2 separate regions of the Homo sapiens genome follow, and region 2 is linked to region 1. The links come from fine-mapping of genetic effects on gene expression. A gene starts in region 1. The other region holds a variant in brackets. All regions are shown on one strand. Distances are from middle to middle. Region 1 holds the start of EXOSC6 (exosome component 6). Region 2 has its middle 19 kb from the start of PDPR.

What was found. PIP is the estimated chance that this variant, and not a neighbour inherited with it, causes the effect.
Region 2: its variant is the best candidate, but not a certain one, in a credible set for the expression of EXOSC6 in sun-exposed skin (GTEx, PIP 0.67).

The regions. Positions count from the first base shown.
Region 1 is chr16:70,248,717-70,254,092 of GRCh38, reverse strand. It overlaps EXOSC6 (exosome component 6), which reads left to right and starts at 2,153. Exons shown (of 1, transcript NM_058219.3): 1 at 2,153-5,376. The coding sequence starts at 2,193. The coding sequence ends at 3,011. AARS1 (alanyl-tRNA synthetase 1) reads left to right here. Exons shown (of 21, transcript NM_001605.3): 18 at 55-174; 19 at 293-379; 20 at 712-825; 21 at 1,187-1,795. The coding sequence ends at 1,372. RefSeq lists enhancers at 612-1,112, 1,747-1,936, 1,977-2,026 and silencers at 2,407-2,496, 2,627-2,946.
Region 2 is chr16:70,092,295-70,097,670 of GRCh38, reverse strand. No RefSeq gene overlaps it. Among named protein-coding and RNA genes, the nearest start is that of PDPR, 19 kb to the left of the region's middle. The variant A/G (reference allele first, on the strand shown) is at 2,190.

The DNA.
Region 1 (5,376 bases):
CTGACATCCCAGCAAGTTGTGGCCCAGATTGAGATGGTCGTCTATTGGTTCCAGGCCCTGGCCACTGCAGTCATCCCCCAGTGGCAGAAGGATGAATTGCGGGAGACTCTCAAATCCCTAAAGAAGGTCATGGATGACTTGGACCGAGCCAGCAAAGCCGATGTCCAGAAACGAGTGAGTCCTGGCAGCACCAGTGGCCAGAGTGTTTCCTAGGCAAAGGCTGGCAGAACAGCCAGGGGTTCGGGGCCTGGGCTTTTGGTCTGAGCTGCTGTTCTGGACTTTTTTCTTGCAGGTGTTAGAGAAGACGAAGCAGTTCATCGACAGCAACCCCAACCAGCCTCTTGTCATCCTGGAGATGGAGAGCGGCGCCTCAGCCAAGGCAACCCAGGGGCCAGGGTCCCCTCCCCTAGGGCTCATCAGCTCTCTGGTGGCTGACATGTGGCCTCTGTGGCTCTGAGCGAAGTGGTTGCCTAAGGGCCCACGGTCTGGGATTGAGATTGGGAGGAGCAGCAGCTCCCTGCATGTGGGAGGCATACCTGGGCCAGGGTAGGGGCAGGGCCCGGCGCTGGGGTCCTCCCCACAGGCCCTGGGCACAGCCCCTGCTCTGGGAAGGGGTAGGGGTGGGTGGCAGGCCTTCTGAGGGCTGCAAATGCTCACACTAGTGAGGGTCCCTGCTCCAGCACCGTGGCCTGAGCCAGGTCCTCCCCACAGGCCCTGAATGAAGCCTTGAAGCTCTTCAAGATGCACTCCCCTCAGACTTCTGCCATGCTCTTCACGGTGGACAATGAGGCTGGCAAGATCACGTGCCTGTGTCAAGTTCCCCAGGTCAGCACCACCTCGCACCAGTGGGAAGTGTTAGGTCTTAAGGTTGTTGGCTGAGGCCTGTGTGTGTACAGCCTGCATTCGAAACAGCCTTTCTGCCCACCGGTTGGTTACCTTTGCCAGTACCCCTTACCCAGGCCTTCTTATTGGTGAAGACATCTGGTTGATACCTGGCTTTGCCACTCTGTCCTGTCCTGGCAGTGGCCATGGCCGCCCCCTGTACCAGCCGTAAAGTCTGTCTCGGCCTCCAGCAGTATCACCCAGGGCAAGGAGTGGGTGATGGCTCCTCCATCCTTTCTTTCCCTGCATTCCTCCCTCAATCCCATCTTCTGTGCTGACTCCCCCTTCCCTTCCTGTCTTCTAGAATGCAGCCAATCGGGGCTTAAAAGCCAGCGAGTGGGTGCAGCAGGTGTCAGGCTTGATGGACGGTAAAGGTGGTGGCAAGGATGTGTCTGCACAGGCCACAGGCAAGAACGTTGGCTGCCTGCAGGAGGCGCTGCAGCTGGCCACTTCCTTCGCCCAGCTGCGCCTCGGGGATGTAAAGAACTGAGTGGGGAAGGAGGAGGCTCCCACTGGATCCATCCGTCCAGCCAAGAGCTCTTCATCTGCTACAAGAACATTTGAATCTTGGGACCTTTAAAGAGCCCCTCCTAACCCAGCAGTAACTGGAACACACTTGGGAGCAGTCCTATGTCTCAGTGCCCCTTAAATTTCTGCCCTGAGCCCTCCACGTCAGTGCCATCGGTCTAGAACCACTAACCCCGCATTGCTGTTGATCGTCACGCTCGCATCTATAGATAACGGCTCTCCAGACCTGAGCTTTCCGCGTCAGCAAGTAGGAATCGTTTTTGCTGCAGAGAATAAAAGGACCACGTGCAATACTTAATGCCGCATGATCTCTATCCCTCTTCCCAATAGGGGCTGGCTCTTTTGACAGCCTTTGGCGTCTGTAGAATAAATGCTGTGGCTCCTGCTGGCTGCTGTGGTGTTCACCTAGTCCAGCCCCAGAACCCAAAATTTTGGGAACAGCCCCTAGGGCTGCCTCAAACGTCTGTGGAGGTGGAGGCCAAATAGGTGGGGTGACTTGGAGCAAGGCGTTCATAATTCAGTAGATGAGGGGTGGAGGTAGTTGGAAGCAGAGAAGCCTTTCTTGGAGCTGCTCTCCCCCCTCCCTTCCAGCAAGATGGATGGATCCGGCTACCCTGCACAACTGGGACCGGGCCGTTCTCCCTCCGGGCCTCCAGGGGCGCTGTAGTGCCTCCCGCCGCTCTCTCGACAGCCCATGCGCAGCCGCGCGTCTTTAAACAACGGAAGAACCAGTGGATGCGGCAGGGCGTTGGGCGGAAGGGGTTCGCACGCCAAGAACCGCCATGCCTGGGGATCACCGCCGCATCCGCGGCCCTGAAGAATCGCAGCCGCCGCAGCTGTACGCGGCCGACGAGGAGGAGGCGCCCGGCACCCGCGACCCAACGCGGCTACGGCCCGTGTACGCGCGCGCCGGGCTGCTGAGCCAGGCCAAGGGCTCGGCCTACCTGGAGGCGGGAGGCACCAAGGTGCTGTGTGCCGTGTCGGGCCCGCGACAGGCCGAGGGCGGCGAGCGCGGCGGCGGCCCGGCCGGAGCAGGCGGCGAGGCCCCGGCCGCGCTGCGCGGTCGCCTGCTCTGCGACTTCCGCCGCGCACCCTTCGCGGGCCGCCGGCGCCGCGCTCCCCCGGGCGGCTGCGAGGAGCGTGAGCTGGCGCTGGCGCTGCAGGAGGCGCTGGAGCCGGCTGTGCGCCTGGGCCGCTACCCGCGCGCGCAGCTCGAGGTGTCGGCGCTGCTGCTGGAGGACGGTGGCTCGGCCCTGGCCGCCGCGCTCACCGCCGCCGCGCTCGCCCTGGCCGACGCGGGCGTGGAGATGTACGACCTGGTGGTGGGCTGCGGCCTCAGCCTCGCGCCGGGGCCCGCGCCCACCTGGCTCCTGGACCCCACGCGGCTCGAGGAAGAGCGCGCCGCCGCCGGCCTCACCGTGGCGCTCATGCCTGTGCTGAATCAGGTGGCCGGGCTGCTGGGCAGCGGCGAGGGCGGCCTGACAGAGAGCTGGGCGGAGGCCGTACGCCTGGGCCTCGAGGGCTGCCAGCGCCTCTACCCCGTGCTGCAGCAGAGCCTGGTGCGGGCCGCCCGCCGCAGGGGCGCCGCCGCCCAGCCCTGAACCAGAAGCCTGAGCAACTACGGACGCAAGCCGAGGACCGTGCTGCCGCCGTCCACGAAAAGACCCGCGCCATCGGCCTCCAGTTTGCGTCGAGAATTCCTGGAAGGGCCCTGATATGACTGTGGTTGGACTGACCTGACTGCCAGATGGTGGGACTTGGTCTGGAGCAGGGACTACTTGGAATGATAAAGGCAAAACTCAACAGCCCCTGGAGCTGCGCTTGTGGTGGAGCTGGACCCTGAAATTACCTGGACCTTTTTTTTAGAGACAGGGTTTCTTTCTGCAGTCTCAAACTCCTAGCCTTGATTGATCCTCCTGCCTTGGCCTCCCAAAGTGCTGGGACTACAGGTGCATGCAACCACACCTGGCTAATTTTCTTTTCTTCTTTCTTTCTTTTTTTTTTTTTTTTTTTTTTGATGGAGTCTTGTTCTGTTGCCCAGGCTGGAGTGCAATGGTGCAATCTTGGCTCACTGCAACCTCTGCCTCCTGGGTTCAATCCATTCTCCTGCCTCAGCCTCCCAAGTAGCTGGGATTACAGGCACATGCCTCCATACCGGGCTAATTTTTGTATTTTTAGTAGAGATGGGGTTTCGCCATGTGGGCCAGGCTGTTCTCGAATGCCTGACCTCAGGTGATCCACCCGCCTTGGCCTCCCAAAGTGCTGGAATTACAGGTGTGAGCCACTGTGCCCAGCTGAGTAAATTTCTTGATTGCACAGAATGTACGGTGATATTGGCGGACTTAAGGACATCGAATTGTTTATCAGGAATAAAGTATTATGTGTGTTTTCTGCGGCCCTGGATAATGCTGTAGCATTCAGGGTCGATTGAGTAAAAAAAATGTAGAGATGGTTTCCTGTTTGTTTTTGCTTCTAGTTTTCATTCATTTGCTATTTATTCTCTTCTGGCTTTGCTTGTGTATGCATATATATAAAACCATTATTATTATTATTATTATTTTTAGTTTCTAGTGGAAGGCTTTTATTTGGTTCTGTGAATAGTCATTTTGTTTCCTAAGAACTTCCAGCAAGTTGTATTCATTCCATTCATCTAGAATTCCTAGGCTGCCTTTGTCGGGCCTGCAGGTATTAATGGAGAATAGCAGCTTTTTATTTTTTTATATTTATTTTTTGAGACAGAGTCTCACTCTGTTGCCCAGGCTGGAGTGCAATGGCGCGATCTCAGCTCACTGCAACCTCCGCCTCAGAGGTTCAAGTGATTCTCCTGCCTCAGCCTCTGGAATAGCTGGGACTACAGGCACCTGCCACCACACCCAGCTAACTTTTTGTATTTTTAGAGAAGATGGGGTTTCATCATGTTGGCCAAGCTGGTCTCAAACTCCTGATCTCAGTGATCCATCTGCCTCAGCCTCCCAAAGTTATAAGATTTTTTTCCTCTGGTTTTTAGTAAATGTTTTTTTTGAGATTGCTTAGCACCAGAATGATTTGCAAATTTGAAAATAGGAACTCCACTAGGAATGCCGGATAGAAGAGTGCTTCACATTTGTAGAGGGAGACAAGAACTAAATATCACGACGTCTTTCTGAGCCTTTTGGTTTGCTAACGTGCCCCAAATTCTTATTCCAAACGGTATAAGATAATTATGTGTAAATGAATACCAGCTCTACTTAGTTTTATTTCATATTTGTGTATCTGAATATATTAAAATATCTTTTTTTTTTTTTTGATGCGGAGTCTTGCTCTGTTGTCCAGCCTGGAGTGCAGTGGCATGATCTCGGCTCACTGCAACCTCTGCCTCCCAGGTTCAAGCGATTCTCCTGCCTCAGCCTCCTAAGTAGCTGGTATTACAGGAGTGTGCCATTAGCCTGGCTAATTTTTGTATTTTTAGTAGAGATGGATTTTCATTGTGTTGGCCATGCTGGTCTTGAACTCCTGACCTCAAGTGATCCTCCTGCCTTGGCCTCCCAAAGTACTGTGATTACTATCATGAGCCACCACACCTGGCCTAAAAGATCATTGATTTAGTTTTGAGTAAGATTTTAAGTGATTAAATTATGGTATTGTTGTGTCTGGAATATCTGATATTAGGGTTTTTTTTTTTTTTTTTTACAGTTTTTGATATGCTTTATTTTGGGTATGTAGTTTACAAAATATAAAGGAAATATAAGGAGTGTTCTCTTTTTTTTTTAAATAAAAAGTGTATTTTTAACTGGGCATGGTGGCTCACTCCTGTAACCCCAGCACTGTGGGAGGCTGAGGCTGGTGAATCGCCTGAGTCCAGGAGTTTGAGACCAGCCTGGGCAACAAGGTGAAACCCTGTTTCTATCAAAAAAAAAAAAAAAAAAAAAAAAGGAAAAAAAATAAGTCAGGCATGGTGGTATGCACCTGTAGTCCCAGCTACTTGAA
Region 2 (5,376 bases), 160 kb after region 1:
TGTTTGTTTGTTTTTTTGTTTTTTTTTTTGAGACGGAGTCTTGCTCTGTCGCCCAGGCTGGAGTGCAGTGGCGGGATCTCGGCTCACTGCAAGCTCCGCCTCCCGGGTTCACGCCATTCTCCTGCCTCAGCCTCCCAAGTAGCTGGGACTACAGGCGCCCGCCACTACGCCCGGCTAATTTTTTGTATTTTTAGTAGAGACGGGGTTTCACCGTTTTAGCCGGGATGGTCTCGATCTCCTGACCTCGTGATCCGCCCGCCTCGGCCTCCCAAAGTGCTGGGATTACAGGCGTGAGCCACCGCGCCCGGCCTGTAATACTGTTAATGTAACATAATATAATATAGGCCACTGACATGCTCAGGCCAATGGAGTTTTAGAAGATACAATATGAACAGAGGATTTAAATGTGCCTGGGTAGTTTGGCCTGTATTCCTGCACCCCTGCCATTCCCCATGAGAACATGGTAGTACAAAGAAAAGAGACATGTGGAGCAGACCTGAACTTAACCCTCAACCTGTAGCCTGAAGCAAAGCCATCTCTAATAACCCATGGGCAAGAAAAACAAGCCTCAAGTTAAGCCCATGAAAGTTTGAGGGTGTCTGTTATGAAGAAAAAATGACTAATATATCTATCAAACAAATAAAATAAAAATATCAAAGCCTTTAAATTAGAACCTGTAACAGCTATGATCTAAAATTAGTGAATTATATTGGAAAGCACAGAGCACTACTGTACCTTTCATGAAGAAATGACATAATCCATGGAGACACGAAAGTGCAAATCTGGACACCAGTGCTTGCTTTTCATCTCTTTTGCTATCTTGATTTGCAACTGACTATAAATGGGTCTTATTTTTGCATTCATTCATTCATTTAGTTTTGAGATAGAGTCTTGTTCTGTTGCCAGGCTGAAGGGCAGTGGCACCATTATGGCTCAATACAGCATCCACCTCTTGAGCTTAACTGATCCTCCTGCCTCAGCCTCCCTAGTAGCTGAGACTAAAGGTATGTGCCATGATAGCTGGTTAATTTTTTAAAATTTTATTGTACAGACCGGGTCTCGCTATGTTGCCTAGGCTGATCTCAACTTCTGGTCTCAAGTGATCTTCCTGCCTCACCTGCCCAAAGTGCTGGGACTGCAGGCATGAGCCAGTATGCCCAGCTTTTTCCTAGGTTTAGTTTCTCTACGCAGAAAGAAAAGATGACAGAATAGGAATGCCGTAAAAACAAGGTTATGATGTTAGGTCTTTGAGATTCGTGGAACCAAATCGCTATGAAGAATTGTTAAGCATAATTGTGACAACTAATTTCAGAAATTTAGAAGGGTGTTTAGAATCCAAGAACACAGTGGTGATTTAGAGGAAGAGAAGAGAGAGTACGAAATATAAAATACAAAGGAGTATTTTATACTACCCTGGGAATGGTGGGTGCATCAATAATGTCAGAATAAATGAACTCGAGATAGTAAATAAAAATAATAAATAAATAAAAAGAAAACACTATGCTTCAGCACTCAGTCATGTGATAAAGAACCAATGAACAGAAATCTCAAGGAACGAAAACAGATGCGGGTGCTGATTCGGGTTTGGTTCTCACACTGCACCATTCTCATTATGTCCCAATTAAACCACTTCATCAGATATAGTACATCTATTTCCACAAAACTTTAAGTGCAGACAGGCTCACTTGTCTCTAATCCTAGAAGATGAATAGCATGAGGAATAACACCCAGAATTACTAAAATAAGATAAAATTGAGGATTTTTTTTCTTCCTCTTTGGTAATAATTAGTGAAATAATGCTCTGAGATGATCCCAAGAAATTAGCCAACAAGTATATATTGAATAATGATGATGAACTCAAAATTGTGCTAGGCATTGTTGCAGGATACAAAGACAACATTCTATCTGGTCTCTAATCTCAAGTTGTTTACAATACAGTTATACAGTTAAAATAGCGAAATCAAACAAGCAAGAGGAGGGACTTGAGATAGGCCTAAAGAATTAGAAGAGTGGTCTCCAAAAAGGAGTGGAGTGATTCCTCAAGGAAGAAGTTACATGATCCCTTGGGGGTCAGGAAGAAAATAACAGAGCTTCTGTTTTTAAAAAAGCTTATCCTTTAATTTATGTTTTAACGTATTTTTATAATGCATATAACATGGGTGTAACTAATATTTTATGAGTATGTATCT[A/G]CTGGGGGAATGGTTACTGATTTTTCAAATGATAGGAAGAACATGACCAAGATAGAGGAAAAAAACTTCTTATCATCATTAAGATTCCTACCTCTACCTGCATTCTTCAAACCAGGGGCAAAGTGCTGGCTCCTAGCCTGTGGAGGCATCAAATTAGAAGCTGAGCTATGTCACATTATCAGCTACTCCTTATTCTGGAGATAGAAGTCTGGGCTTCAAAAAGAAGGATCTCTTACATCAAGTGTTTACTCATTGGAAATAAAACTGTCCTCTTACTATGGAAAACTGTAAGAAAAAAAGTCATGAAAAGTATAATAAATAGCTGCTAATTTAATGACCAAATATGAGAGAAGTGATTCCTGACATTGCATATATTAGTATCAATAAGTAAACTATTATAAATGGAAGAATGAGAAAATGAAGAGATTTAGCACATCCCCATCCCAATGCATCAGTGACTAAAACAGAGAAGGAACTTGGGTAATGCTGTATAAATGATACAGCAAAGGCAGTAAAGGGAAAAGCACCAAGTACTTGGAGACACCTGCTTGACTTCAATAAAGAACATGATGAGTGTATCAGGAAATGGTTAAAAAACAAAACAAAACAAAACAAAAAACCTCACAAAAAACAGAAAACAAAAAAGAACCCTGCCACTTTTCTATAGTAGTTAGCAATAGAAGTGTGTGACTTTAGGTACATCACTTAACTTCTCTAAACCCCTAACAACAGGCTTTGAACTAGAGTGGGAATCCATGAACAGGCTTTGGGAGTCTGAGATGTCTTGAAATTGAATGCAAGCATTTGTGTGTATGTATATTTTTCTGAGAAGAATATCCACAACAGCTATCACCATCTCAAAAAGATCCACGAGACAAGAAAAAATTAAGAAATACTGGTCAAACATTGGTTGCGGTTCTTTCCAGCTTTATGAGTCCATAAAATCTGAGATGTGGAATTTAAAAATGTACTTATTGAATTTCAAGTTTTTTTAATGTAGATAATTTGTATATTATGATGGTTACTACTGTTTCACCTTAATCTCTCCTAGTCAAAGTCACAACAAACAGGTTTCAGAATAAACTACTGAAAAGCTTGAGTCTGAATGTTCTCAAATCAACTACCGCATTCACTTAGGAGGAAGGTTTTTACAGAAAGTCTTGGAACTATGATTTCCCCAAGGTGAATAGGCTGAGTTAATGAGTCTGGCAGGAGAAATTAAAGGATTCATAAAGCTATCTTGGAAGGTGTCCCAGTTTCTGAAACAGAAATGCTTGGGAGTTGGATGTTGTCTAAAATATGGAACATTCTACAGTTTCCACTGAAGCTGAACTACATCAGATCACATAAAGGAATAGGGTCCTTTTTCTAAGATACCTGGTACTAAATTAAGTGACAACCGACTTTGTTTTTGAATCCCTCAGGAGAAAACAAACAAAAGATGCCAACAGTATCAGTGCTTTTACAGCCTTAGAAAAATTTGAAGTCACGCGATAACCTAATGCCTCCTTTCAATTGGAGACACTCTGCTGCAGTATTAAGTCAAGTCTTCTGGGAGTTTATTCATTAAGAACCCAGTAACTTCCCATCACACGAACACTTCATTTATTAACCTTGTCCAAAGCCCCAGTGACAATGAAGATAATGTAGCTGGTCTCTAACAAAATAAACCCAATCTTTTACCCCCGGGAAACTCTCCTGAGCAAGTCTAAATGCAATCTCAATCCTCAGGTTTAGAACTGCTTTCCTCTTAGTGCCTTATTCTGGCTCTATCAGAATTTATTTTTCTTATTTTACCCAGGGATAGTGGTTGAGTATTGTTTTTCCAAAAGGACAGTGATCAGCACAGGCTTTACGCCTTCCAACAATGTTCTGATTCACTAAAGAGTTGTAGCTGCTTTTATTTAAGTCTTTAACATTCAACTACCTTTTCAAAAAGGAGTTACTGTACAGGTCCAACGGGAGATTTTGAGATTTTTTTTTTTTTTTTTTTTCTTAAAAAGACATGAGATACAGAAGCTGGCTCTCAAGTGCATATCTAATCATCATACAAGGCTGAATGTGGAGTTTTTAGGGGGAAAGGAGGACTTGATATTTTAAAGAAGGAAGAAAGCACCACTAACCCTATGAGATGAGTATGGCAATAAAGTCAGTCAGAGAAAGTTTCATGGAGGGTACATTTGAATTAAGTCTTATAGGCGGTTGTGGTTTGGTTAAGGATGCTGTGTGCAGGTTGAGGCAGATGAGAGGTAGGCTGTGAAAGGTGGAGCACTAGGCTGTGGGTGGCATTGAAAAGGCACATTCTGTGCCGATGGCTGAGAAAGTGAGGGACCCCATGACAATCACTCCTAGGCTTATTCATTTGGCATCTCCTAATACGTGCTAGGACAACTACAAGTCTTTAGTAAAAATCCAACATTGGTCCAATAATGGTTTCTCATAGTTCAAATTAAGATGTCATGCTAAACACAGTGTCATAATTTGATTTACTTTTATTACTTGTGTGCTTCCCAAGTGGACGGTGGGATAACAGTTGTCAAATATTATATAGTTACTCCTATAGGAACACGTTAAGTTTTAAAGATAGACGGGGCAAGACCCTCACAGACAAATTAGAGCCCATTTATCCCTGGTTCTTAAAAGGTCTCACATAAATATAGAACAGTGAGTGGGCTATGTTGACGTTAAAACTTGTCTTGTACCTTTAAAATGAAAAATCTCCTCAAAGCCCTTTAATTCTAATAAAATAAAAGGGTATACGTATTTTACAGTGGGAATTAGCAGAATGACTCAGAGAGCATACTTACGCATAGGTATAAATATACTGACAGGACTTTTAGCTTTGTCAAGTACTAATTATGTCATCTTCAGTGAGGTTATATCCCTATTCTGAAAATATGAAAACACACAGCAATCGCTAATTACTCAAAACCACTGCTTTGGACCTAATGGTTGACCTCCCTCCATCTCCCAAAAAAGACTGAGTAACTCCTGACTCCCTGACAGAAAGATCCATCTCTCTAGAGAAGATGCTCTGCCCCAAACTTTACTTTGAGAAGTCAAATTATATCTTAGTTTTAAGAAAACTCTAACACTAGTTAAACTGACCAAGTGGAAACACTCAAATTAGTATAATTTCTCATCTTCTATGCCCAAAGCAGGAAATAAAAAATAACAAATAAGAATA